Homo sapiens: one gene and its partners. The protein of the gene in region 6 purifies or fractionates together with the protein of the main gene of each other region. This does not show direct contact. Each region holds a gene or a part of one and is shown on either strand. Other genes may lie near its edges. The genes, in order: COL1A2, MUC7, ZC3H3, LTF, MGP, HTN3 and PLCH1.

Region 1 (3,500 bases), on a different chromosome or scaffold from region 6:
GAATGCTGCACTGAGGGACTGGTATTCACAAACTTACAGTTTCACCACGGTTTCCATGTTTGCCAGCAGGACCCACGGGGCCATGAGGACCAGGTGCACCTGCAGCACCAACGGGACCAATATTGCCAGGGTAACCGCGCTCTCCCTACCAAAGGCAAAATGAAGCTTAGCATCAATCTGGGTTGCATTTTAATCACTTTTGAATTAGAGAAAGATGAAAAGTGTACTGACCTTGTGTCCGGGTTGACCATCGCGACCTGGGGGACCATCGTTCCCAGGGTTGCCCTGTGAAGACACCACACAAATTAAGGCTGTTGGTGAGGCTCTGCTGCCTACCAGCCCCTATGTTGTAGCTACTCTGTCTTCATCACTTCCAGTGCTCAGTAACGAACCCTCTTTCAGACTGTTAAAACTAGGGATAAAAACCTGCCAACCTAGATATTTTTTAGAGATGTTTTAAATACTTGGGCCCAGTTTTGCAGTGTGCTATTGAAAAGCCCATTCTTTGGCCTAAGCAATTTTCATATTTTCAGTACTAGGTGTAGATACTATGGAGAAGCTGACCATCTTGTTCAGAAATTTGGAAGAAGAGAACCTCAGCTCAGGACATAAAGTTTCACACAATGAAATCCTGCTCAGTTTTATTTTACAAACCAAGTGTTGGACTCACATCACGACCAGCTTCACCAGGAGCACCGTTGACTCCAGGACTACCCACAGCACCAGGAGGACCACGGGCCCCAGGAGGGCCGGCAATGCCAAGAGGACCAGGTTCACCCTAAACAGGCAGAGAAGATAAAATGACATTCCCCTTATTCGATGGAATGCTAACCTTCCCCTCCAAAACAACCCTACTCAGGAGATTCTAGTTTGAAGGAAGAAGGTAAATTGAATGTGAATGGGTCACACAATGGTAAGAAGTATCATTAGTATCATCTCTGCCCTCCTTCTCCACATGTAGATGGCCAGCTTTATGTAATCACGGGATGTTGCTCTGTAAAAAGTGAGCCTCGTGTCATTCAGTATCCCAAATGAAATGAATTCAAAAAGTTGATATATTTTATGGAGATGAGATGGTTTCTAGTTGTTGTCACGTATAAGGTTTAATGGAACGATTCAGAACTTCCAGAGTTTCATTCTTCCTACAGGATAAATGATGCCAGCATTTCATATTGCAGAGGAGTAAACGCAATTAGAGATTGTATCATTCCTAAGTGCGTGGAAAGAACAAAAATCATTCTGCATAATTTTAAGCTGTGTCTTTATAGTGTGTGTCTAAGTAAGGTGGTATTAAAGCTTCTTAGATAAGTGACATGTGATCTGTATAAAGAAAATGCCATGAATAAAAATCTTAAGTGAAGTTATTCAGTGATCAATCTGTCACATTTGAAGTGGCAGCTTTTAAAATCTTTTCTTATGTTAATGGAGTCAGAATACTGTCAAGCACTCACCACAGCACCAGCAACACCTGGTAGACCACGTTCACCTCTCGAGCCAGGGAGACCCAGAATACCAGGAGCACCAAGAAGACCCTGAGGACCTGGAGTGCCAGGAGGTCCCTAAATAGAGAAAAAATACTGAGTATTATGGGTAAGACCCTAGGTGATAACACAGGTTGGCTTGAAGATTGTGAGAATAAACTGTCTTCAGCTTAGAAAAAGGCTAATGACCTCCTATTACTAGGACATATCCTTGGATATCTTTTCTCTAGTGATGACGGTGAGTTTACATCTTGGCATGAATACTTTTGTATCTGATTCATCCTTGAGACCAATGGCACAACATTTAAAAATATGTGGTTGAGATTTATAAAGACACTTGGGGTGGTGAAATAGAGTTTTTATAGCCTCTAGGCAGGGAAACAAATAAAAAAATTTAAATTGTTATGGATACATAATAGTTGTACATAGTAGGAGGGGTTCCTCAAAAAACTAAAAATAGAACTACCATAAGATCCAGCAATCACACTGCTGGGTATATACACAAAGGAAAGGAAATCAGGCTGGGTGGGGTGGCTCACATGTGTAATCCCAGCACTTTAGGAGGTCAAGGTGGGTGGATCACCTGAGGTCAGGAGATCGAGACCAGCCTGACCAATATGGTGAAACCCCGTCTTTACTAAAAATACAAAAATTAGCTAGGCATGATGGTGTGTGCCTGTAGTCCCAGCTACTCGGGAGGCTGAGACAAGATAATTACTTAAACTGGGGAGGCGGAAGTCGCAGTGAGCTGAGATCGTGCCACTGCACTCCAGCCTGGGCAACAGAGGGGAACTCCATCCCAAAACAAAAAAACAAAAACAAAAACAAAAAACAAAAACAAAAAGGAAATCAGTAAAATCAGTATATCAAAAGGAAGCAAATTTTGACTTTGGCCTCTAAGGTCTAATAGGGGCACCTTTCAGAGTAGCACTAATACTGGACAGTGTATGTTTAAGAAATTGGTAGCCTACTGAGATTGATTAATATGTAGTAGGATGGCCACAGCAATGGGACTCTGTTCTAATCCTGGTACCAGTAAGGTGCCTTCAATAGCTTTAAGGGCTTTGTGATAAAACTGAGTTCCCTCATTTATTGTCTTCCCGATTTTGTGCTTTCTGAGCATCTTGGAAGCCACAGCCCCTCAGTGTGTGCTGGACAGATTTCCTGGCTCAACTGAGCTCTACTTGAGAGCCTGCAATACTCATCAACAAATAGATGCCACTTGAAGATTTGTGTAGGGGCTTTATTTTAATTCAGCATAAGGTATTAAGAAAGAGGAGTTGGAAATCACTTACAGCAGTACCAGCCTCTCCAGAGGGACCCTTCTCACCAGCGAAGCCAGGGGGACCAACTGCACCTACTTCTCCAGTTCGGCCAACTGGACCTTGGTCACCACGAGGACCACGAAGCCCTTCTTTCCCAGCAGGACCAGGGGGACCAGGAGGGCCAGAAATACCCTATGAGCAAATGTACAAGGTCATTTCCTTTCTGTTAATCACCAAGGGCCTGGAAGAGAGCAGCAAAGATTCTAGATCTTAAGATGCAAACAATGTGATGCAATAAAATAATACCCTGGCCATTTGGGGGAAATATTTATAGTTTTTAACCTTCTTTCTTGCAGAAAGAAGCAACTCCTGTCTTCCTTTATGAGGCTGTAACCAACCAAATAATGGAGGAGAGACTATGGCAAATTTCTATGAGGAAAAACAATGTCATGCCACTGGTACCCTGGCATATTGGAATCAGAACTATGTAGAATGATAGGAGTTAATGATAAATGAATGGGACTCTGAGTTTCGAAGGACTTTGCCTTTTCTTTTTTCTTCTTTTTTTTTTTTTTTAAAGAAAGCCAATATACGTGTTTTGTTCATAATTGAGGAATCCCACACACTTCTCAACTAGGTTTAATTAAATGCCTACAGGGAATGAAGATTTTTCTGTTATGAACCTGTAAAAGGATTCCAAGAAATCAACATCTTTGCTATTTTTTTTTCCCAGAAACCTTAACCAGAAGACTTA
Region 2 (3,942 bases), 440 kb from region 6:
TGTTCATTTCTTTCTTTTACCACATATACAATCCAGCAGAAGATATAGTAGACTCAATCACTAAAATATATCCTAAACCCACTCTTATCTTTTAATTGCTGAAATTTAGTGCAAGTCACCATCATCTTTTATCTGGACCACTGCCATAGCTTCCTGACTAGTCTCCTTATCTCAGCTTTTGTTACCTGCTACCTATCTTCTCCTGAGAATCCTGTCATGTAAATCCCCTGGGAGTGCTTTGATCATGCTGAGACTTCCTGACAGATTTGAAACCATATTCCACACCAAGACCTAAAGGCCTTACAAACCTGGGTTTTCATCTGTGTCAGTTCTCATCACACTCACTATAAAGTTTGTGCTCTATAGATATTGGATAAATGAAACAAATTATTTCCTTATGCTCTATCTACCTACCTACCTACCTACCTACCTAGTCTATCTACCTATCTATCTAGTCTATCTACCTATCTGTATATATTTTTAAGACAGGGTCTCATTTTGTCACCCAGGCTGTGGCATAGTGGTATGATTACGGCTTGCTGCAGCCTTGACCTCCCAGGCTTAAGATCCCAACCTCAGCCTCCGAGTAGTTGGGATTACAGGCACGCACCACCACACCTGGCTAATTAAATTTTGTTGTTGTTGTTGTTGTGGAGATACTGTCTCATTATGTTACTCAGGCTAGTCTTGAACTTCTCTGAGCTCAAGTGATCCTCCCTCCTAGGCTTCCCATAGTGCTGGGATTAGAGGTGTGAGCCAGTGCACCGGCCAATTGTCCATATTTATAGGTTTCCTGGAAATAAAAGATGTCAAGCTTCTTGGAAATAGGGGTTGCCTATTATGCTTTAAAAGTCTCAGGTAGGTACACTAAATGTTTGTTATTGATAGTTAAGGAAAAAACTTATTTGGGTGAATACTTACCGAGAAGCAAGCACTCAGTGCACAGATGCACACAAACAGCGGCAGAGTTTTCATTCTTTCTGATGTCTCCTGGGAAAAGCAGAAATGTGGCGTACTATTAGTTATGATATTATGGGAGAGGAATGCGTTTTGGTAAATAACTTATTTTTATTAGAAAGTACAGGCAAAAAGAGACCAATGGTTTCTGAAAATTATGTATACATTTTCATTCCATAGGGGTGATGCAAAATTGCTTCAGGCCTAAAATGCATTCTTTTAGAGAGGAAGCAATGGAGGAGGCTCAAGAATTATTCTAACTAGTTTGCAAAATGAGCATTTTCTATTGATATTAAAGATTGGCTAGGAAAGGCAGGATCTTAGGAAGTTTAGCAATAAGAAAAGGAAATAATTTTCTTCTTATTTCTTTTCTAATTCAGGAAGCTCCCCTCTGTGGGGAACCATCATATAAATGACCTGATACTACACAGTTTTGCAAAGACTCCTGATGTTAGAGGAAAATGCTCTTTGTCGCTGTGCTATAAGGCTGTCACTTGGAACAAAGAACCAGGTCAAATGGACTCTTCCTCCAATTTCATTCTACTGAAGATTTTGCCATTTGATAATCCTTTTTCTTGTACCTTTTTTTTTTTTTTGAGACAGAGTCTCGCTCTGTTGTCCAGGCTGGAGTGAAGTGGCACACGCATGGCTCACTGCAGCCTGCACCCCCCAGACTCAAGCGATCCTCTCACTTTGGCCACCCTAGTAGCTTGGACTACAGTCATGCACCACCGCTCCTGGCTATTGCTATTATTATTTTTATTTTTTGTAGAGACACGGTTTCACTGTGTTGCCCAGGCTGGTCCTGAACTCCTGGGCTCAAGCAATCCACCCTCATCGGCCTCCCAAAATTCTGGGATTACGGGTGTGAGCCACCGTGTCTGGCCGATACCCTTTTTCTAAGTCCCAAAATGACAGGAATTATTCTTTATTCATTGTTATGTCATCATGCCTAGTACATAGTGCAGACTTAATACATATTTTTTTTGAATAACTACTTGCAAAAGAGAATTGTATTTTGGCTATAGGTTGTAGAAGGGAAGAGTGAGAGAAGAATGTGGTCTTTTGTTTTTCTCATTTTGGTTATATATGTAATGTGTACATGTCAGCTTATCAGCTTTAGAAAACAAAATAAAGGTTAAATCATATAGACAGATTACATATTAGGGCAGGTAATTAGTGTGCATGTCAATGTGGTGGGCTGTGAGATTAGACACACTTTACAATACAATCCCATGGTTTATAAAATGGGTGTTAGAGTCAGTCAGAGACTTGATTTAAGCTCTGCCCACTTACTGTGTGACTCTGCCACTCACTGCATGACTTTGAGTGAGTTGCAATCTTACATCATAAGAATGTCCTGAGGATTGACTGGAATAATATATATATTACAAATCGTACTGAGAATAATGTCTTATCCATAATAAAGTCTCAGTGGTATTATTATAGTACTAGCACACTAAGAAGAAAACAATCTGACCCAATTGAAAAACGAAATGGTTACTTATTATTCTTCAGGTTCCTAATATATTGTCAGATTTGTTTTTAAATTTCAAGACCAAAAAACATTCCTACCAATCATATTGTGTTCTAATAACATATGAATTGAGTGTTACCACACTGTTTGGCAGTTCATAAGAAGAGAGGAGAATAACTGTATTAGAACAACTATTGCTATTACTTAATATATGTATATTACTTGAAAGCTGTTTAGTTTATATTAGAACCTATCTAAAGTATCCACATACCTGGTGCAGTGTGAATCTTTCTTCTTAGGGTGTTCAATCCAGTTGCTTGCTTTTAGCCAATCCTTTGAGGATGGTAACTAGAAGCAAAAGAAGAGAAAGCACAAGAGAATTTTCAGGTTTTATAACACTCCAGTCGAGCTTTTTGGAAATAGGAAATCTATTAGATTTAAGATAAGGTCATTTGTGTCAAGGAATTTACTTTTAAAGAAAAGAATAGTTGTGGTTTGCTGAGATTGACAGTAGTTCTTTGTGCATCAATTTCTTCCTGATGAGCACAGTGACGATCAGAGGTTCTCAATGAGTAACTTATGTGCTTGATGAGTAGTGGAACAGTAATTGAAGGCGCTTACGGAGAAACAAACAACCATGGCCCAGGTCCTCCCAACAGGAACAGATCATCCACTCTTTCCTGTTGGGCTCTCAAAGTAAGCAGAGTGATTGCCTTCTGACAGTTAATGTGATGGAACACCATATTTCCTTGTCAATAAGACAAGTTAATAAAGGACAGAGGATTTAAAAAAAATACTGTGGTGCCAAGTACTGGTGCAGGGCAGTATTTAAAGCCAAAAAATCAACACTGAATTTTTAAATACAAGTAATTAAAAACAATTTTTGACTTTTTGTCTTGAAAAATATTCAAACATATAGAAAAGTGAGGAGGGTAGTAGAACTATATACTCATTCCCTGGTTTTCATAATTCTTAACATTTTGCTATATATCTTAGTTGTTTTGCTGAAGTATCTTAAGGTAAACTACAGAAATTGTAACAGCTACTCTCTATTTCAGCATTTCTCTCTAAAAAGCCTTTCTTTTATAACACAACACCATCAACCTATAACAATATTAATAATTCAAACATATAATCTAAAATTGAGTTTATACTCAAATTTTGGCAAAAATATTTTTAGTCATTTTGTTCCTACCAGGACTCAACTAAGGGCCGTGTGTTGCAGTGACTTGTTATGTCTCTAGTTTCTTTTATCCCAGAAAATTTTCTCCCATTTCCCCCATGGTAGTGATATTTTGATAGCTAGACTAGTCATTTTATAAATATTTATTTTTAAAAAGAAACTTAATAACTTAAAAAAGAACTTAAGAATCATTTTAATAGAGATCTTCAAAATTAGATATTTCTACTATGTAAAATCGTTAATCTGGAATACAGTTTTGAAGGTGTGATTCCACTTCTAGCTAGTCAGTTTGTTCTTTTGCACATACAGTCTCTGAGGGCTTACA
Region 3 (3,500 bases), on a different chromosome or scaffold from region 6:
GACCTCCGGCCAGCCCAGTGATGCGGGCAGCAGGCCCCTCCTGCGCACAGGTGAGAGGTGAGGGCGGGGGCGCTGGGAGATGACACCGACCGGCTAGCGTGTGGTGGGCATTGCAGGCCAGACCCCCTAACCTCCAACATGCTGTGGCTGCTCTGGGCCTTGGCTCACGCCCCTGTCTTGGGGAGGAGGTCAGGGGCCTCATGCTCCCAGGGAGCCAGTCCAAACAAGCACTTCCCAAATGGGTCACGTCCCATCCTGGGAGTTAATTTCACTCTTCCATACACCCGGCGCCTTCGTAGCCATCCCTAGTGAGACCAACAGGGCAGCCGGAGAATGGAGGGTGCCAGGAGGCCTTCCTCTGCCATCCCCCAGGAAGGGCCCTGGAGTGGCGCCCACCTCGCGTGGCTGAGCGGCCCCTGATTTTCTGTGGGGTGGGGGAGAGTTGCTCACAAGCACCATGTTTCGCTTTTGGAAAAAGGATGATGCCAGGTACGGCAAACACGCCCGGGCGAGCGCACACCTGGGGCCGCGGCGCCCGTAATCGCATTGGCGACGCCTCGACAACTGTGTCTGGAGGCAGCCGGCGCCGCCACCTTGCGCCCTCCCAGCCCAGGGAAACAGGCTCAGGAGAAGGAAATGCTTTGGATTCACTTATCCTACAAATTAACTAGAAAAATATTTTGGTTTCAGTCCAATTTTACCCCCTTTCTTGTCCATCAAAAAAAAAGAGGGAGATTGCAGGTGGTGTTGGGATTGCAGAGGCTGGGCCATGCTGGCTCCCCGACCCGCCTGGGACCTAGAGAGAGAACAGGTTCAGCCCCTGGAGGAGGTAGACTCCGACGGCAGGGTCTGCGGGGGTCAGAGGAGAGGCAGGAAGCGTACCTCCCTGGAAGCCAGCCTCACTGGCCGCCCTGCCTGGCTGTGTTCCTAGCATCCATCTCTGGGCTCCAGGGGCTTCTGGGCTGTTTCCTGGGCAGAGTCGCTGGGAGCAGCACGGGGGCCCTGGCACCTGCCCCACAGGGCTCTGAGCCACACTGTGGCTGGTCAGTGCCCATGACCATGCCTGTAGCCTGGTGGCTGGGGCTGGGGGGTCCTGGTGAACTGGGCAGGAATAAATCCCCACTCGCTGAGGATCTGGTGAGAAGCCCTGGGTCCCTTCCTCGGCACTGTGTCACCCCTGTGTGTGCCTCCCACTCACTGAGGATCTGGTGAGAAGCCCTGGGTCCCTTCCTGGGCACTGTGTCACCCCTGTGTGTGCCTCCGCTTCCCCACCCGTACCTTGAGGGACTGGGCTGTGTGATTTGTGCGTGTGGTCTCATCTCTGCTACACCCCGGGTGCTCAGTGCAGGAGCTGGCTCAGAACATGGGGGCCTTGGTGAGGCTTTGCCCCTGGGGGATGCTGCCGTGGGTTGGGGGATAGGCCTTCCTGTCACCCAGCAGGGCCTTCTCTGGTTACCTCTGATCCTCGGACTCTGGAGCTTGGTGGCCTGTGGGGCTACACACAGCTGTTTGTATCGTGGAGGGGAGGGGCCTCGGGCTTCTCTCCAGCAGTCATTTCCCTGAGTGAAGTATAAGCCCCTGGCCAGTCTCTGGCACAGCAGGTCCCAGGCGCCTGTGGCCGTCCACCAGCCACCAGCCATGTGAGCCAACAGGGACCCTGACCAGTGGAGCTCCCGGGGCCAGCAGCAGGTGCTCTGAGGACATCGTGCTTGACCCCCAGGGACAAAGCCATGAGGTGCCTCTCTGCTCATGCCGGGTGGTCCCACCTTCCCCTGGGCCTCCTTGGCAGAGGCCAAGCCCCACGTTGGCTGGCACTGTCCTGAGTGCACTGACACTGCAGGCACAGTCCTGGCACTGGCTTTCCTCTCTGGTCCTAGAGGCAGTGGGCAGAGCAGCCAGGCTGATCCCTCTGCCCAGGGAAGGGCACCCCGAGCCCTCACCTGCCTGCCTGGGTGGGAGGGTGCCCTGCATCTCCCATGGATGCTGCCTCTGACGTCCCTAGTGCAGGGAGAGGCGTGGGCTGAACACCAGTGAAGATTCCTGGGGCCCACAGGTGTAAATACGCAGACTCGTGTCCAGTCAGGTGGTCAGGGAGGCCTTTCTCATGAGCTGAAAACTGAGAGGGCCCAGAAGGGACAGAAGCAGCAAGAGCATCCTGAGGCCGCCATGCAGAGGCCTGGGCAGGAGTGGGAGGGGGCGTGAGGCATCGCAGGACCCTGTGCACAGCCAGCAGGGGGAGGAGATGGGTTGGGGGCAGGCGGGGTCTACCTGGCACCACTGCACCCACATTCAGAAAGCTCCCGGTAGTCACGATAGTAGTACTGACTGAGGTTGATAATTAAGTGGCCAAGACAGCAGCCATGGAGACCATGATGTCCTGACGTACGCGAGAGCCCCAGGCGGCCAGGATAGGCAGCAGAGGCTGCTCCTGGCAGTCAGTCTGCAGGCCCTGCCCTGCTCTGCGGAAGCTGGAGCCAGGGAGGGGATGCCTACTGCCCTTTCCAGAGCCAGAGCCCATCCCAGGGAGGACCCACCCACTCAGGGAGTGGCCCCCACTGCAGCAGCTGCATCCCACTCCCTGCACAGGGCCAAGGCTGGCCCCGCCTGTTCACCCAGGTCGCGGTGCGTCCTTGGGATTCTCCCTGCACCGTGCACCCGCGGGACCCACGGAGGGGCTTGTGGCATGGGTCCGTCTCCCCGCACCGGGGCCCTTGGGTCGTCTCAGCCCTCGCCGGGATCCTGTGGCCCACGTTTGTTGGGCTGGGTGGGCCTGTGTGGGGAGGTGCACCTGCCATCCCAGCTCTCCCATCCCTCAGTGTCCACAGAGACGCCTGTGGCAGGCAGCAGGTTTGCACTTGGCCCCCTCAGACACGGTGCCCACCACCCGGATGGCCCAGGGTCTGAGCTTTGGGGAGGAGGGAGTGCATAGCCCTGGCCCGCTCAGCAGTGGGGAGGAGAGGGAGGGGCTGCACACTCCTCCCTGGGAGGCTGTGGTGCTGCTGTGTCTCCCCGTCGGTGCCAAGTGCTGAGCTCCGCAGAATCTCGCCTTGCCATTTACACACATGGCAGAGCCCTGGCGGGCGCAGAGCCCCTGACGTCACCACACTGTGAACAGTCTATCCCGGCCACCCTTGCTGACTGGCCTCTGCCTCCGTTGGCCCTTCCCTTGGCCCAGAGCCATCAGAGAGCCAGTCTGGTTCCCCCAGCCCTTCTGGGGCATGTCTCACCCCTGCACCAGCAGCAACCCAGAACTCCTTCATTCAGCCTCAGCAACGCCAGCAAGGAGGGTCTGGCGCACAGAGGCTGGTGCCAGCCAGGGCAGGCAGGGGTCCAGGGGCCTCCTTGCTCCCACCCCTGCCCCTGGGGAGGCCCGCCTGCCATCGAGTAGGGCTATGGCCTCCGGTGTCCCGCTGGCCAGCCTTGGTGGCGACTGTGGCAGTCCTGGGGCTGTGCAGAGCCCAGTGAGGCCGCACTCGCCCTTTGGGTCGACAGGCGAGGCC
Region 4 (3,500 bases), on a different chromosome or scaffold from region 6:
AATATTTTTACAACTATATTAAAAATAGAGAAGTGGACAAAGATTTCTACTCAAGAATGCTCACCACAGGGTTATTGATAATAGCAAAGTAAGGGACAAAGAGGAATGGGGGCATGACTAAACTGAGCCATATTCACATAAAAGATATCCTGGAAGCATGTTTAAAAAATGTTTTCGTCCGAGTGCTGTGGCTCACACCCGTAATCCCAGCACTTTGGGAGGCCGAAGCAGGAAGATTGCTTGAGCCCAGGAGTTCGAGACGAGCCTGGGCAACAAAGCGAGACCCTGTCGCTACAATAATAATAATAATAATTATGCAGGTGTGGTGGCGTATGCCTGTAGCCCCAGCTACTTGGGAAGCTGAGATGGGAGGATCACTTGAGCCCAAGAGTTCCAGGCTGCAGTGAGATGTGGTCGCACCACTGCACTCCAGCCTGGGTGACAGATCAAGAATCTGTCTCTTAAAAAAAAAAAAATTAATGCTTTCCAAGAGTAAATATTCATGTGGAAGAATGCCCATTATACGCTGTTTAGTGAAAAGGGCTTAAAAACGACATACTGCAACACTTCATTATTGTTGCATGCATATCTGCAGATGTGCAGAGAAATACTGGAATGGAGAATTAGCCAGACTTTAACCATGTCTGTCCCTCTGTGTGAGATCACAGGTGGTTTGGGGGGTTTGTTGTTGTTTTGTTTTAACATAATACCTTTCCATATTTTCCAAATTCCTTATAATAATCCTGAGTTGTTCTTATAACCAGAGGAGTGGGAAACCCACAGTAAACTGCTTTTTGAAACTAAAATGCTTTCTGGCCCTGAGCACACCTCTCCAGGCATCCCTGCCTCACCCAGGCCCCCGTGGCCTCTTTGACTGTTGACTTCACTTTAAGCAGATGCCCAGGCCCTAGGTCTTCCACCGGGCCCACCGCCCGCCCCTGTGATGGAGCTCCCTACCAGCACCAGGGCGATGCAGTCCTCTGTGGTGGAGGCCGAGGAGCAGGTCACGCTGCCTTCGCTCAAGCCACTCCACTGGTTACACTTGCGCAGCTCCTGCTCGCCCACCGCACACCACACGACCCGCGCACGCCGGGCAGCCACTTCCTCCTCACCTGCCAGAGGGAAGACCGCAGGTGGCTGGGCAACCTGAGCTTTGCCAGGTTGTCCAACCTCCCCAGAGCCAGGGTCCTGCCCAGACTCTCCCTGGAACAGGAGCTACAGTACATGTGTGGACATGTGGACCCATACCCTCTCCTCCTCCACTTCTCAGCTCCAAGCCCCTTCTTCAGGTCCACAGAGCTCCCTGTGTTTCCCACTTCTGTTCCTTTGGAGAAGTTCCCTGGCTTCTAATCTATCCATTAATCTTTAGAGTCAGGAGGCGCCTATTGTCTCTGTCTCTGAGGATAAACGCTCCATGACCCAGAGACCAGTGACAGTCCCAAGAGATGGCCTAGGGGACCTTGAGCCCAACCCTGACTTCCCCTAACGCCTGCAATCACCACCAATAACTACGGTGCAGCCTCTGGGTTCCCCCAGACTCCCACCCCCAGCCCCCCAGTAGAGAAGGAGCCATAGCTGAGTTCCCCCACCATGGTGTCCCCAACTAAGTTCAAGGTCTGGGCCTGGGAAGTGTGGGTAAATCCAGGCCCCCGGATTCATCCAGGAGGGGTCCTGGCTATCTTTGTTCATGTTCATGTTTCTCACTTAATAGGAGGCAAACTGATTTTTCTGCCAGGCCTGGGGAGCCTGACGTGCACTGATCAGGTGGCCAGACTATTCTTTTAGAGACACCTGACCTAATCCACAGAAGACACTCACACCTGCATCAAACCTCCACGATGACCCCACAGTGTCTGGGAAAAGGAGTGACCGCCACAAAGTAGGGCCACCTGCTGGGAAGTAGAAGACCACACCAGGCGGACCTCAGGACCCTCCTGGGCTCACTCACTTTTCCTCAAGTTCTGGATGGCAGTGAAGTAGCCGGAGCCAAGGTACAGCCCAGAATCTATCCTCGGGGGCACCCTCGAAAACCCAATGGCAGAGTCCTTGAACAGCAGATCTTTCTGCCCACTAGGGGAGCCAAAGAGCTGGAATTTCGGTGACTTGTCCTTTCCAAACTTTTCCTAATTAAGAAAAAATAGAATTATGGTGTCAATGGTAAATAGGGAGGAAACAAAAAAATGATGTTAAAAAAGAGTATCTGGAGCTTTGGGATCATTCTAACTGAGAGCAGGAGCCTCGGTTGAGACCCTCCTGCAGAGGGACTTGTGCCATCTCGGAGACCCAAGCTCAGCTATGGCTCATTCTTTGAAGAGTTGCTGAGGTCCAAGCACCTTAGGGCCCTGAGAAGATTGCATCGACCACCCCCTGCTTCTGCTCCCATCATAAGACGCTGTCAGCCCGTGTGACAGAAGAGTTTCATTGCTTCTGCTGTCCACAGTACAGCCTGGGCAAGCAGCCCAATGCATTAGTGTGCTATCCTGCAGCAAAGCTACAGGACTTCTGGAGTGGCAGAAGTCAGGGAAGTAAGAAACCTTGCTCCCTGCCCCCCATATCCAAGCAAGTGGGGAGGACCGTGGGTGAAGATACCTGTGCCTGGCGGAGAAGATTCCAGATGGCATCCTCCTTGCCATTCACACTTCGTGCCACAACGGCATGAGAAGGGACCCGGGCCAGATGGCAGTCTTTGAACTTGTCCACTGGCTTCCGAGTGTTGTCTGGGCAGAGTAACTCATACTCGTCCCTTTCAGCCTCGTCTGACAGGTCCTCTGCAGGGAAGGTGAGGTGGGAGGGAGTCTAGATAAGCCGACTCCAGCAGTAACCTCGAGCTATAGTTCCCCTTCTCCCTATAGAATTTTGAGCTTGGGGAGATAGCTGACAAAACTGAGGGTCAGAAAGGCAGGGGTTTGCTCCAGAACACTCAGAAAGGTAAAGGTAGTGCCCCAAAAGCCTCAGGGGGCAGCCGAGGTGTGATCCTCATCCTAAATCACTTAGGCCACCCTGGGGTTCCCGTGCAGCTGCTGCCTGGCAGGCCAGAGAGGCCAAACCAGACCCGTCTGTTTCTGCGGCATCTCTGCCTGGAAAAGTCACTTTGCAGAGACAAGCTCAGGGGGCCACCAAGGGTTGCTCCCTTACTCACATCTCTGGGAAGAATAAAAATGACAAAAATGTTAACAAGGCAGGGAATAAGGCAGGAAGGTGAGACACTTTCCAACACTGAGTATATCAAAAGAAGGGGAAGAATGGTTTTATGAATGAGTTCAGGCAAATGTGGAATATCATATATAAGTTGCTTCAGAATGTGTAAAGTGAAAAAAATCTTGCCCGAGTCATTTTATGAGATTAGTACAACCTTGATGTCAAAATCAGAAAAAGTATAGGAGGGAAGAATTAAAAGTTTATTTTACTTACGAACATAAATGCAAAATTTGTAAATAACGTACTAACTAACTCAATCTCACAGAGTATTTAAAAAGCTAATAGATTGGAATGAAGGTTTA
Region 5 (4,125 bases), on a different chromosome or scaffold from region 6:
GACAAAAAGAATGAAGCATGAGGCTCCACCTAGTTCATCACTGCTCCTTGAAATACATCAGTATTGAAAGACACATCCACCCCACCCCCAACCCAGCCCTATTGCTGTTCCAGCTCAAGAGTCAGAGGTCCCGAAGCTGTAGCTCTTCTACAATCTGCTGCTCTGTGACTTCAAGTCTGTTGTCTGCAAAGAAAACTATTGGGTTCCCAAGCAAGAGAGGCACATCTGGTAGGACAGATTTTGTGATTGCAAAAGAAGGGGGAAAAAAAGAAAGAAAGAAAAGACCTCTCTATACAAGATAACCAGAGGCATCAAACTGAAATCCTCCTGTGGAAAATAAGCTAGTACTTCTGGGCCTGATGGTGTAGTGAAAACCTGTGCTTGAGGATACATTACAGTGAAAGAGCAAAGTGAATAGTAAGTAGCTATTACTTACCTCCTTAGGGAGGTGTGTTGTTTGTCTGTACATCCCCCACAGCACCTAGCACAGTACCTTGCATCTCACCTGCCACTCACTAAAAAGTCTATCAAGTTAGTTAATTATCGAGACAACGCCCTCAGAAATGAGAGAACAGTACCCTCTTATCCTTGCTGCACTTTCCAGCACTGATACGCTGCCTAAAAGAGGACTAGGGCACAGGTTTGAATTAATGTCACAAAACTGGATGGGCAAGTTACAACGGTGTTGATTAAGGAAACAGAACTCATGGTGCACCGGATATCTCCATCCTGATGAACCCTTGGAAAAATGCCAAAGATGCATATCCCCAGGCAAATGCCTGATTAGTCTGGGATTGATAGATTGGTCTAGGATTCAGCCCTACTGGGAAGATGTCTAAATTATAATCAGTGTAGAAAGCGAAGTTCTCCTAGAAGAAGAGGCAAAGGTTAAAAAGAAGAAAAGAAAAGAAAGTGAAGTCCTTTCTCCCCCAAAACCTCTCATCAATCAATCAGGGTAACAAACAGAACACTAGGGCTCTGTCTGTGGACCAAACCCAAAAGCCCTGCGGTCAGGGCCAGGAGGGTAGATCATGTGTTTGTGGCAACTTCCTCTGTGGGCTTTTGCCCAGGTCTGTCCCCAAGCATACGATGGCCAAAACTTCTGCACCAGAGCAGCATCCTGTGTAACACAGTCAGGTCCAGCAGTTAGGGAAAACTGCCCACTCAGAGTAGATAATATCTGGAAGGAATGACTGTTTGGGAAAAGTTCCAATGCTAGTTCAGTGCCAACCCTTCCCCACCTTCTCCAGCTCTCTCCCACTGGTTCCTCCCCTCTCAACTGCTCTGGTTCTTATAAAAACCTCACAGCCTTCCACTAACATCCCGTAGGAGCCTCTCTCCCTACTGCTGCTACACAAGACCCTGAGACTGACCTGCAGGACGAAACCATGAAGAGCCTGATCCTTCTTGCCATCCTGGCCGCCTTAGCGGTAGTAACTTTGTGTTATGGTGAGAAACTTTTCTCCCATTTCTCTGTGTTTACTTTTCTGCCTCTGACTTTGGCTTACTTCTATTTTTCCTCTCCCTCCTCCTCTTCTTCCCCCTTTCTCTGTTATAATCTTAAAGTACCATTACTTTCACATTTCCCAGTCTCCGCAGAAACTGATCTGTTCTATTAAGTCTTTTTTATATCCTAAATATCCAGAGTCTTATGCAACTTAACAGGCAAACCCGTTCAGTGGTAAGTCTCTGTATATCTAGAAACTCATATTTCAGAAAGAAGATACCAAATTCCCAGCCCCCTGCATCCTCATTTTTAAGGATATTTATTTAGACTTTGGTATCAATGGGTTAAGGGTATTGTTTAAACCACTTGCCTTTGAGAAAATCCATTTTTATGTGAAGTATTAAGTATAGCCCTTTCTAGGGACTGGACAATCTCATGAACTTACTATGTTTGTTCAGTTAATTAATTTTAAAATAAAGTTTTACATCAAAAGAATTTTAGAAAAGAATCATTTTCATAACTCCTGTTGTCAGAAAATAAATTTTGCCTGTTTTCTATATGTCATTAAATATACCTGCATTTGTTCAAAGCTTATAAAAGGAAATCTGAAGCAAAGTTATTTACTTATTTCAGTCTTTTGTTTCAATTACCTAGATATTTTCATTGTTTTAAAATTTAAATTACATTAACAACCATAAAGATTATGCTTCTCACTCTTGTATTCACAAATTTTCTGTATTAGAGGATTTGATTTCTTCACCTCCTTTTTAAGTTTTGAAGAAAATTCACTTGCTGGCAAATATTAATAGAAGCTTCTTATTCCAAAATTTATCTGCTGTGCTCAGGAGAGTGGCAGAAAGAAGAAAACTTCGGCTTTGATATCGTTTCAGTTCTCTCTCTGAACTGGCATCGTGCCCAGGGTGAGCTGTCAGCTGGAGCTAGTGGTTTCTGTGGCTGCCAATTTAACACAGGTTCTTAAGAGGCTTTCGGAACCCTCTTAGAAACCTGCCCTAGTAAGCCCAGCAGAGCAACTGCCCTGTAGTTCTCTTGCCTGGAGAAACCTGGCTGTCTTCTGGATCCTTCTTAATCCTCTTTGACCCTGTTCTCAAACAGGCTCTGAATAAATCAGAGAAGAAGGTTCTCTGGAGACTTCTGTACAGCACTTAAAGTGTCTTATTTTGCTTGTCTGAAGACGTCATAGCCCTTGGGAAATTTTAGCTGAAAATGGCCACTCCCTCCTTCAACATCAGAGAAACTAAAATATAGAGATATCCACAGCAAGGCCAGAGCTAGAGAAAAACCTCATAAATCCTAAATTCCTGAAATTTCTAATAACCACACTGCTAAATATATTCTTCATGTTTTTAGACTCTTTCCTCTTCTTCCATCCCTGTATTTAAACTATCACAGTGTCTAAATTGATAAATAATAACATAATGAATCATGGATAAATATTGATATAATGAATCTTTTTTTTTTAATTTCAGAATCACATGAAAGCATGGAATCTTATGAACTTAGTAAGTGAATATTTAACTTCTTTATTCAAATCCCTTGCATTAAAGAACCTCTTCTTATTTTTAAATAAACAAGATGGAAAGATATATAACAGGGAGGGAAAAGGGGGCCTCTTTTGGAAAACTAAAGTAAATTTTTAAATCTAATGACTATAAAAATTGCCAAAGGAGCAATTTTTTAAGTTTGAAGTAGTGCAATATGGGATTTAAGCTACAGGCGACATATTTAGAAGCCATAAAATCTCATTTGGAAATTTTAAATTGGCACCACGTCAACTGCACAGATGGAAAACGAGGAGTAATGACAAATGGTAAAGCACAGAGCTGGACGCCAAGTCAGCTGGGAGACCACAGGCGCCACGTTAAGCTGAGTGCTGTTTTGGTTTTTTTGTGTTTTTCTTTCTTGTTTTTTTTTTTGAGACAGTGTCTCACTCTGTCGCCCAGGCTAGAGTGCAGTGGTGTGATCTCGGCTCGCCGCAACCTCCACCTCCCAGGTTCAGGCAATTCTCATGCCTCAGCCTCCTGAGTAGCTGGGATTACAGGCCCATGACATCATGCCTGGCTAATTTTTGTATTTTTAGTAGAGATGGGGTTTCACCATGTTGTCCAGGCTGGTCTCGAACTCCTGGCCTCAAGTGATCCACCCACCACAGCCTCCCAAAGTGCCGGGATTACAGGCATGAGCCACCACACCCAGCCAGCTGATTGCTGTTGAATAGCTGGATTTATAAAGACTGAGCATAGGAGGAAATGGCACATCACTCTCATTTTTAATTTATTCATTATTTTTATAGTGTTTAAACTGTTCATGTATCGGCAATCTAGTTATGCTTCATAAATCCTCAGGACAGAGAATTTCTCCTCAAAAGGAATTTAAAATCTACCAAGTAGAAATACAGAAATTAAGAAAGGCAAAGTGATCGTCCAAACTCAAAACCAACAAAGCCTATATGACAAGTCTCTAAGACACATGGATTGATTACTGATTTCATTTGATCAGGAAGTTAATGAAATCTACTTTATACTCTCCTTTAATTTTTGCCAATCTCCGTTTATATGAGTTGCATAAGTTAAGGCACTTTCAAATATATTTGTGTCAAGGAATATTCACGGAAATATTTCCAGCTATGTGTCGCTAAAACTGCATTTATTTATTTTCTG
Region 6 (4,247 bases):
AAATAGGCAGCTTTATTTTAGAAAGAGTAAAATAAATTGTATGCTAACTTGAACAGTTTGGTTGTGCAAGAAATTACTTGAAAATTCATATTTTGACACCCTCTAATACTTAGGTTCCATTGAAGTGTACCTTGTTCTTTCCTCAGATTTCTAACTTCAGGTGGTCTAGAGCTTTTAATATTTAAAGATATTTTCACAGTTCTCAGTCCCACATATTTATGAAGCTTGCTTAATTTTCTTTTATTTTTATATTCAAGTAATTGTACTTGAGTGTTCGCAGGTATGTAATGAATATTTATTCTAAGTCCTTTAAGAACTTATATAGGTTAATTCAAGGAAAATCTTTACATAGAAATATTAAAGCTGTATTGAGGTGAACATGAATATATGGCAGAACGTAAGGAATAAGAAAGATCCTTGGGATAAGTACTGAGAATGTATCCTTTAAAACTTCCAGATATACTTACAGTCATGGAAAGCATGAGAGCCAAGATTAAAGCAAAAACAAAAAACTTCATAGTTGGCTGAGTCCTATAAAATCAAACATGAAAAATCAGTAATCACATTCTTTCATGCATTCATTCATCAAACTTCTACTGATGACACTATGCTTCAAAGCATTGGGAGACATGCTCTGTTTTCCAGGCTGGAGTGCAGGGGCATGAGCACAGATCACTGCATCCTGGACCACCTGGGCTCAAGCCATCCTCCCACTTTAGCCTCCCTAGTTCCACTTGTAGGTGGAACTACAAGTGTGTGACACCATGACAAGCTAATTTGTTTTTCTTTTGGTAGAGAATATTTTTAGTCTCACTATATTGCCCAGACTGTTCTGAAACTCCTGGGCTCTAGGAATCTTCCTGCCTTGGCCTTTCAAAATGCTTGGATCTTCGGTGTGAGCCCAGGGCATAGCTTCATTAATTGATAAATAAAGGTGAGTGCTCTAATTTGGAATTATTAATATGCTAAGGAAACACACAAATGGACATCTTAAATAGACCAAGATAATGGGAGTAAGAAGATAACAAAGAAAGGCAAGCTTGAGTTGGATTATATGGAATGAGTAAAGGGAGGTGTTGGGAGACTGCAATGAAATACAACAGAGAGGAAAGCATGTTGAAAGTTCAAACAGTTTAGCATGTAGGGAGGACAAAACTGGAGAAAAGATGACCACTTAGGTTGTTGTGACATTACAAGGGATTTAGATAATGACATTAAGAATGCTAATTAAAGTACAGTGTAAAGACATATTTAGAAAGTAGAATGGCAAGTAATGGGGACTTTCTTTATAATAAAGTCAGTGAATATGAGCCAGATTTCTATTAAAGAATAGCACAGATGGTGCAACCTTGAGATTAGAACATTAATGGTATTGGTTAGAGAAAAATAAAATGAAGAGAAGTCACAGGGAAAATGATTGTATCTACTTTGAGAAGTTGAACTGGTGAAGATTATTCAATATTTCAAATAATATTATTCAAAGCCTCATCTGGGACTCTGATATGTTTTTATAATTATGCATATGCAAGTGAATCCAGTTCTTCGGCTGATATAAAAAAGTAAAGCGGATTACTTATTTCTAAATTACAAACATGTAAATAAAAGCATTTCCACTGGAAAATACAATTACCACAAAACTTAGAATTACATGGCATTTTTATTTGTTAGTTGCTAGCTATAAAGTAATTCATTAATAGATAATATTTTAAAAAATTTTTCTAATCTCTCTTACCTGTCACTTGTGATAGAACATTACAGTAACGTTTTTCATCTAATTATAATAAAAATGTCCTACTCTTAAACAGCCCTACATCTCTATCACAGAAAGCAGAACCCATTTGCCTTATTATTTCTTCATTCATTTTGCTTCACTCATTTAAATGGAAACTTCTTGTATAGGACTAACTATAAAAATTATATATTTCTTGAAGTTTTTCTATTACCTAATAGATAAATCAAATTATGACTCTTTTTATGATATAAAAAGACAATTTTACCGTTGTTTGTGACTGTCAATTGTGTTGCAAATAGAAAATCAAAAAAGGCTGTAAGAAAGTGCCCTTCTTTTACTAACAGATAAAATGATAAATGAACATAGATAATCAATGTATAATTAATAGTTTTGAAAAACATATTTCCCGAGTAAATCAATAATAAAAATTTGGAATAATAAACTGTCTTTTCTGCCATAACACAAATGAATGAAAATGAGTTAAATAAATTAGTAAGATTGAGAAGACTAATTGTTATACAGTATATATTTTGATTTATAACAGAACTGTTTTTAATGATGGAAAGGCCAATGAAAAAGTAATAAAATAGTTTACGACTAAGAGGAAAGTAAATTAAAAAATAAATTTTTATAATAATGAATTTGCAAGACAGAATCTATCAGTATCTTGTAAAATGTGAACTTCTACATTAAGTTTAATATAAAAGTAATAAGAAAGTAGATATCAGGTATCTAGGCAAGGAAATAAAAAGAGTTCATTGAGGTCCCACCATCAGCGAGGATGTAATACATTGCCATATTCCACATTAGTTACTTTGCATGATGATTGCTGGTGTTAATTCATAGGAATTGAGATCTAGAAGTCATCTTCAGATGCCAATAAATGGTAATTATTTCTTTATAAGAAATTATCATAGATAATATACATTTTCATAAGTGGGTTACTATTGATTTTAGCAAACAAAAGCTTATGCTAATATATAATATTAGATTGTACTTGAACATGTTACCTTTTACTCAAGAGGAGAATCCAGAAGTCAGTGAAGCTGAAGTGAAGTCTCAAGAGATGTCCTTTCCTAGATGGCTGATGTATTTAAACACGTTGAAATCTCCCTTTTGTTTTTTGAAATCTCCCTTTTGTTTTTCAAAATAACATCAATTATGAGATCATATGATCGAGACGGAAAGTAATGCCCAAAATCTGTCTCTACAAATTCTAAAAATAAACTTAACCAGGTGATTCTGCAATAGATCATTGTGAAGACAAGGCAACCGGAAAGCGAATGGACCCATCACATGCTAATCCCAGTGTTAGTCTAGCCCTGAGTGAGTCAGACAACGGAAAAGCACGCTGGAGGAAACCAGGCATAGAAATGATTGCAGTGATAAAGATGTTTCTGTAGAATACCATCTACTACTTTTCAACAAATATATGTCCAAGATGGAACAACGCTATGTCAAAAATAATACTTACCATGTTATGAAAAATTTTACACGTTCTCTAGTAAATAGTGATAATTGGCATAATAAAATTGGAGTCATTCTACACTTCAAAAGTTTTCCTACAAATCATCATTTATCTTGTATTTTTACCTGCTTACATTGACTTAGAATATTTTAAGTAATAAAATGAATGTAAACATTGGCCAAAATTCAGTCATCTTTTGGATGCCATATGATAAAAGTATTCTCATATTTAATGTCAAACGTTTCTAGGTGCTTGGTCACATATCTCTCACATAAAACTGATTTCTTATGTTTAGAAATTTGAATTTACTTCCCTGGAGTTTTCAGGGGCCCATATATCTTCACAGAGGTCATTTATTGAAATAAGTACACTAGACAGAAAGAGAAAAATAGAATTTTAATTAAATTAATAGACAAACATGTATAAAAGATCACCTACTCACTACCGGTTGTTTAATTCAATGTGCTAAGAACCGAGTATTAAAAACTAACTTCTAAGTTCAGATAAGTTGTACAGCTCAGTCCATTGTTCCTCAGGATGTCCCACATACTACCATCACAATCAGCATCAGCTCATACCTGTTGAAATGCAAATTCTTAGTCTACTTTTCCAAAATTACTGAGTCAGAATCTTGGGGTGTACACCTGGAACCTGAATTTTAAGAACATGTCCAGAACATTATTTGTGTACTTTAGAGTTTGAAAAACTATATAACAGATTTGTAAACGCATTGTCTTTAGATTGATCCCACTAATAGAGATTATGTTTTTAATTTGAGTCTGATACAGGAAAGGGAACAACACACATCAGGGCTGGTGGCTGGGGAGGGAGGGAGAGCCTCAGGGCAAATAGCTAATGCATGCGGGGCTTAAAATCCAGACGACGGCTTAATAGATACAGCAAACCACCATAGCACACGTTTACCTGTGCAAAAAACCTGCATATTCTGCACATGTATCCTAGAACTTAAAGTAAAATAATAAAATAAAATAAAATGAATTTGTGTGGTTTTTAAAGGAAATATTTATTAGGTAAATGTTTTATGCT
Region 7 (3,500 bases), on a different chromosome or scaffold from region 6:
TGAAACTGTAGTGTTCCTTCAGGGACTCCTTGTGAACCCTTAATTTCTCAAATTAATGATTGTGCTTCAAATGTATTTTACAGTATTAATCACAAGAGATTGAGGAAAAATAGGTATACAATAATGTTTGTGAAATGTATGAACAAACAAATTTTAAAAGATTACAAATAAAAAGACATGAGGCTTGGGTAAAGAAAAATTTCTTTATATTATGGCGAAAATATAAGAAGAATGCTGCCCCTCCAATCGTATGTAAATATTCAAGAAGTAAACTCGCCAGACTATATTGTGCTTGCCTTTAGAGTTTTACATGCTCCAGAAAAAGTGAGAAATTATCAAGACACATAGGCTTCACAAATGAGAGCTTTGAGAAAACGCATGTCATAAAAATACAATATAAACATATAATGGAGGCATTTCCTCAGTGAATTTTTAACCCAATTCTTTAAAATATCATTTACTCTTTTTACTAGAAAAAAAATTTCCTTTAAAAGCAAAAGTCTAGAGAGCCTAGATTACAATACCATAAAAATAAGCCACGCATCAATTCCACAGTTACTTAGTTTTATGTGTTGAAAAGCTTTTAACATAAACTCAGATGGGAGTTACGGATTTTAGAGATTTCTTGCTCTTCTACATAGACACTTTTTTTAGTGTAAATTCTATTTCTAGACCATCTTCATTAAAAAGTGAACACAGATTACCATCTTACCATTGTCATCTACCACACGGGTTTGATCTTTACAACAATCTACTGGCAATCCAATAATTTCAACTTCAACAAAAGGGTCAATGATCTATTAAGTAAAGAGAAAGTACTATTACAAATAACATATTTCTATACATATGTTAATTAATCTGAGAATATTGGCCAAAATGTCTACATTTCGACAGCAACTGATTTTACAAGGTGCTTAGTAAGAAAAAGAAATGGTACTAGGTGTGGTGGATTCAGATATATGAGACAAGTATAAAAAATATTAAATTACTGTTTGCTAGTATTTATTAACGCCAACAACTTTACCCACTGAACCTACAACTTTAGTTCAGGGCAAATACCAAACAGAACTGAGATGTTTTGCCCATGCACAAATGCTGAGAGCAGCTGTATCTATAATAGTCAAACACTGGAAACAACCTAAATTTCTATCATGAGTAGGATGGATAATTGTGGAATATACGTTTTTTGTTTTTTGTTATTTTGTTTTTTGAGATAGGGTCTTACTCTGTAGCTCAGGTCGGAGTGCAGTGGCATGATCTTAGCTCATGGCAGCCTCCACCTCCCAGGTTTAAGCCATCCTCCCACCTCAGCCTCCCGAGTAGCTGGGACTATAGGATTGTGCACCACACCTGGCTAATTTTGGTAATTTTTGTAGAGATGGGGTTTTGCCATGTTGTCCAGGCTGGTCTCAAACTCCTGAGCTCAGGCAATCTGCCCACCTCAGCCTCTCAAAGTGCTGGGATTATAAATGTGAGCCACCGTGCCTGGTCAGAAGTATGTGTTCAATGAATACTCTCAACAATGAGAAAAGAATAAAGTTCTCCTATATAACATAACGTTGAGCAAGCCAGACATAAAAGAGTACCTACTCTAAGAGTCCATTTATATAAAGTTTAGGAATAGACAAAATTTGTCTGCTGTGATAGGGGTTGGTGTTTGCTATGAGAGGCAGTGGGGAGGGTAGATATTGACTGGGAAGGTGGACAGGAGCCTTCTAGGGATTCTGGATATACTCTGCCTTGATCTGGGTGGCATAATAATTAATCAAGCTATGCATGTTTGATTCTTATACTTTAATTCCCATCCTCTCCTCTAGGGGGAAATATCTTGTATTGTTGGTCATCTGTAGACTCTCCTTTCTGGTACCAGTTCTGGGCGACGAACAATGAAGGAATAAAACCCAAAGAATCTAGAAAGAGCTGACCTAAGAAAGTCTAAAGCAGAGAAAGTAGACTTCTTAAAGCATTTATGGCGGTACCAAATTGTAGAGCTCTGTGATTTCCTTCCTTAAGATCCAAAAATGATGGTTTAATAGGCGGGAGTGACAAAGAACCTGAAGTAATGGATCAGCTCTGAGAGGAAGGGCATGAGCATAGGAGAAGCTGCTATATAGCGAGAAAACAGAAGCCAAGAAGGTATAATGGAAACAATGGGCTAAGAGCTCTGGAAAGAAAAAAGACTGTGGCCGCAGATGAAGACATTTTAAAATCACGCGACACAGGTACAGCAGATGATAATAAGAATCAGCACATGGCCAAGGAGCAGGTGGCTGATGTGCAGCAGGGAGGAGCATTGCAGGAGGACAGGAATGTGAGGTTATATTATTAACGGAACATTGCCTTTCTAGGTTAAGATATACTCTTAGGTGTTGTTCTGTTAATAATATAATTGTCTTTGCACTCCAATTTTAGCAATGCTAGTGTCAACCTTAAATTGTGAATTCAATTGTGTGCTCTTATGCCTTCAAAATAGATGATGGACAGCAGTACAGCAAGAACTGTGTGACTTACCAATAAATCAGTTAATGTCTGATAAGCTGAGGTCAGTGCTCAGTTATGAACACACATACATCTCTGAAGACATTTCGGATAAAATGTAAATGCACTAAGATAATCACATAATTAACCACTTAGACACGTAGTCATAGGCAACTTACCTCGCCTCGATCTCCAAACATGGAGTCTGGAGGTTTGGGGAGTTGCTGTCCACTGATAACTTTCAGGATGAGCTGCTTTTTGGGGTTGGCAGGAAGAGGGTCACCAGAGAAAGGGTTGAAAGTACCTAGGCCAAGTAAAGTATAAGTTGGTAACATAAGAAGAAACACACACGCATGCACAGCTTAAGCTTGTAAACAAAGAAACAAACAAACAAAAACAAATGCTGAATTACATGATCACATAACTATCAGTGTGGCATAGCTGTGGTTTTCATTAGAAACCATGTTGCCAAAGGCCAGTGGAGTGGGCCAACTTAAAGCAAGTGTTTGCAATGCAATGATCAACTGTGGAATGAAGGAAGAGAAGCATTTTATTTGAACACCAACAGTGTAAAAAGAAGAACAATTATGTCAGATTCAAATAATTTTCTAACCTAAACTATCTCAGGCATGAGTGAATATAACAAACAGAAAGAAGACTTGAAATTAAGTAAACAGCAGAGCAAGAAAATGTGCAAAGTGTAAAATCTTGAAGATAATCCTGTCAACAACTTTTTTATCTGAATTGTTATATATGTAATTTGGAAATTTTAAAAATAATTTTAATGAGCAGAACCAAAAGAAAGTGTTGTTTGATCTAACACATTATCCTTTTTTTGCTTTGTTTTGTTTCTTTTGAGATGGAGTCTCACTCTGTCACCCAGGCTGGAGTGCAGTGGTGTGATCTTGGCTCACTGCAACCTCTGCCTCCTGGGTTCCAGCGATTCTCCTACCTCAACTTCCCAAGTAGCTGGGACTACAGGCACGCACCACTATGCCCAGCTAATTCTGATTTTCAGTAGA

What was found.
Region 1: the proteins of HTN3 (region 6) and COL1A2 purify together in Homo sapiens (affinity purification with mass spectrometry, with the first as the bait; one study listed by BioGRID). This does not show direct contact.
Region 2: the proteins of HTN3 (region 6) and MUC7 purify together in Homo sapiens (affinity purification with mass spectrometry, with the first as the bait; one study listed by BioGRID). This does not show direct contact.
Region 3: the proteins of HTN3 (region 6) and ZC3H3 purify together in Homo sapiens (affinity purification with mass spectrometry, with the first as the bait; one study listed by BioGRID). This does not show direct contact.
Region 4: the proteins of HTN3 (region 6) and LTF purify together in Homo sapiens (affinity purification with mass spectrometry, with the first as the bait; one study listed by BioGRID). This does not show direct contact.
Region 5: the proteins of HTN3 (region 6) and MGP purify together in Homo sapiens (affinity purification with mass spectrometry, with the first as the bait; one study listed by BioGRID). This does not show direct contact.
Region 7: the proteins of HTN3 (region 6) and PLCH1 purify together in Homo sapiens (affinity purification with mass spectrometry, with the first as the bait; one study listed by BioGRID). This does not show direct contact.

What each region holds. Positions count from the first base shown.
Region 1 is NC_000007.14:94,422,395-94,425,894, reverse strand, and holds part of COL1A2 (collagen alpha-2(I) chain precursor), read right to left. Parts: intron 2,939-3,500; coding exon 2,777-2,938; intron 1,560-2,776; coding exon 1,452-1,559; intron 779-1,451; coding exon 671-778; intron 286-670; coding exon 232-285; intron 146-231; coding exon 38-145; intron 1-37. UniProt on the Homo sapiens protein: Type I collagen is a member of group I collagen (fibrillar forming collagen).
Region 2 is NC_000004.12:70,471,055-70,474,996, reverse strand, and holds the start of MUC7 (mucin-7 precursor), read right to left. Parts: upstream 2,801-3,942; 5' UTR 2,706-2,800; intron 991-2,705; 5' UTR 976-990; coding exon 922-975; intron 1-921. UniProt on the Homo sapiens protein: May function in a protective capacity by promoting the clearance of bacteria in the oral cavity and aiding in mastication, speech, and swallowing. Binds P.aeruginosa pili.
Region 3 is NC_000008.11:143,471,948-143,475,447, reverse strand, and holds part of ZC3H3 (zinc finger CCCH domain-containing protein 3), read left to right. Parts: coding exon 1-50; intron 51-3,500. UniProt on the Homo sapiens protein: Required for the export of polyadenylated mRNAs from the nucleus. Enhances ACVR1B-induced SMAD-dependent transcription. Binds to single-stranded DNA but not to double-stranded DNA in vitro. Involved in RNA cleavage.
Region 4 is NC_000003.12:46,447,906-46,451,405, forward strand, and holds part of LTF (lactotransferrin isoform 1 preproprotein), read right to left. Parts: intron 2,769-3,500; coding exon 2,590-2,768; intron 2,124-2,589; coding exon 1,949-2,123; intron 1,113-1,948; coding exon 958-1,112; intron 1-957. UniProt on the Homo sapiens protein: Transferrins are iron binding transport proteins which can bind two Fe(3+) ions in association with the binding of an anion, usually bicarbonate. Lactoferricin binds to the bacterial surface and is crucial for the bactericidal functions.
Region 5 is NC_000012.12:14,883,055-14,887,179, reverse strand, and holds the start of MGP (matrix Gla protein isoform 2 preproprotein), read left to right. Parts: upstream 1-1,325; 5' UTR 1,326-1,388; coding exon 1,389-1,449; intron 1,450-2,292; coding exon of another isoform or gene 2,293-2,367; intron 2,368-2,934; coding exon 2,935-2,967; intron 2,968-4,125. UniProt on the Homo sapiens protein: Associates with the organic matrix of bone and cartilage. Thought to act as an inhibitor of bone formation.
Region 6 is NC_000004.12:70,027,012-70,031,258, reverse strand, and holds the start of HTN3 (histatin-3 precursor), read right to left. Parts: upstream 2,801-4,247; 5' UTR 2,743-2,800; intron 532-2,742; 5' UTR 519-531; coding exon 468-518; intron 1-467.
Region 7 is NC_000003.12:155,490,072-155,493,571, forward strand, and holds part of PLCH1 (1-phosphatidylinositol 4,5-bisphosphate phosphodiesterase eta-1), read right to left. Parts: intron 2,783-3,500; coding exon 2,658-2,782; intron 798-2,657; coding exon 713-797; intron 1-712. UniProt on the Homo sapiens protein: The production of the second messenger molecules diacylglycerol (DAG) and inositol 1,4,5-trisphosphate (IP3) is mediated by calcium-activated phosphatidylinositol-specific phospholipase C enzymes.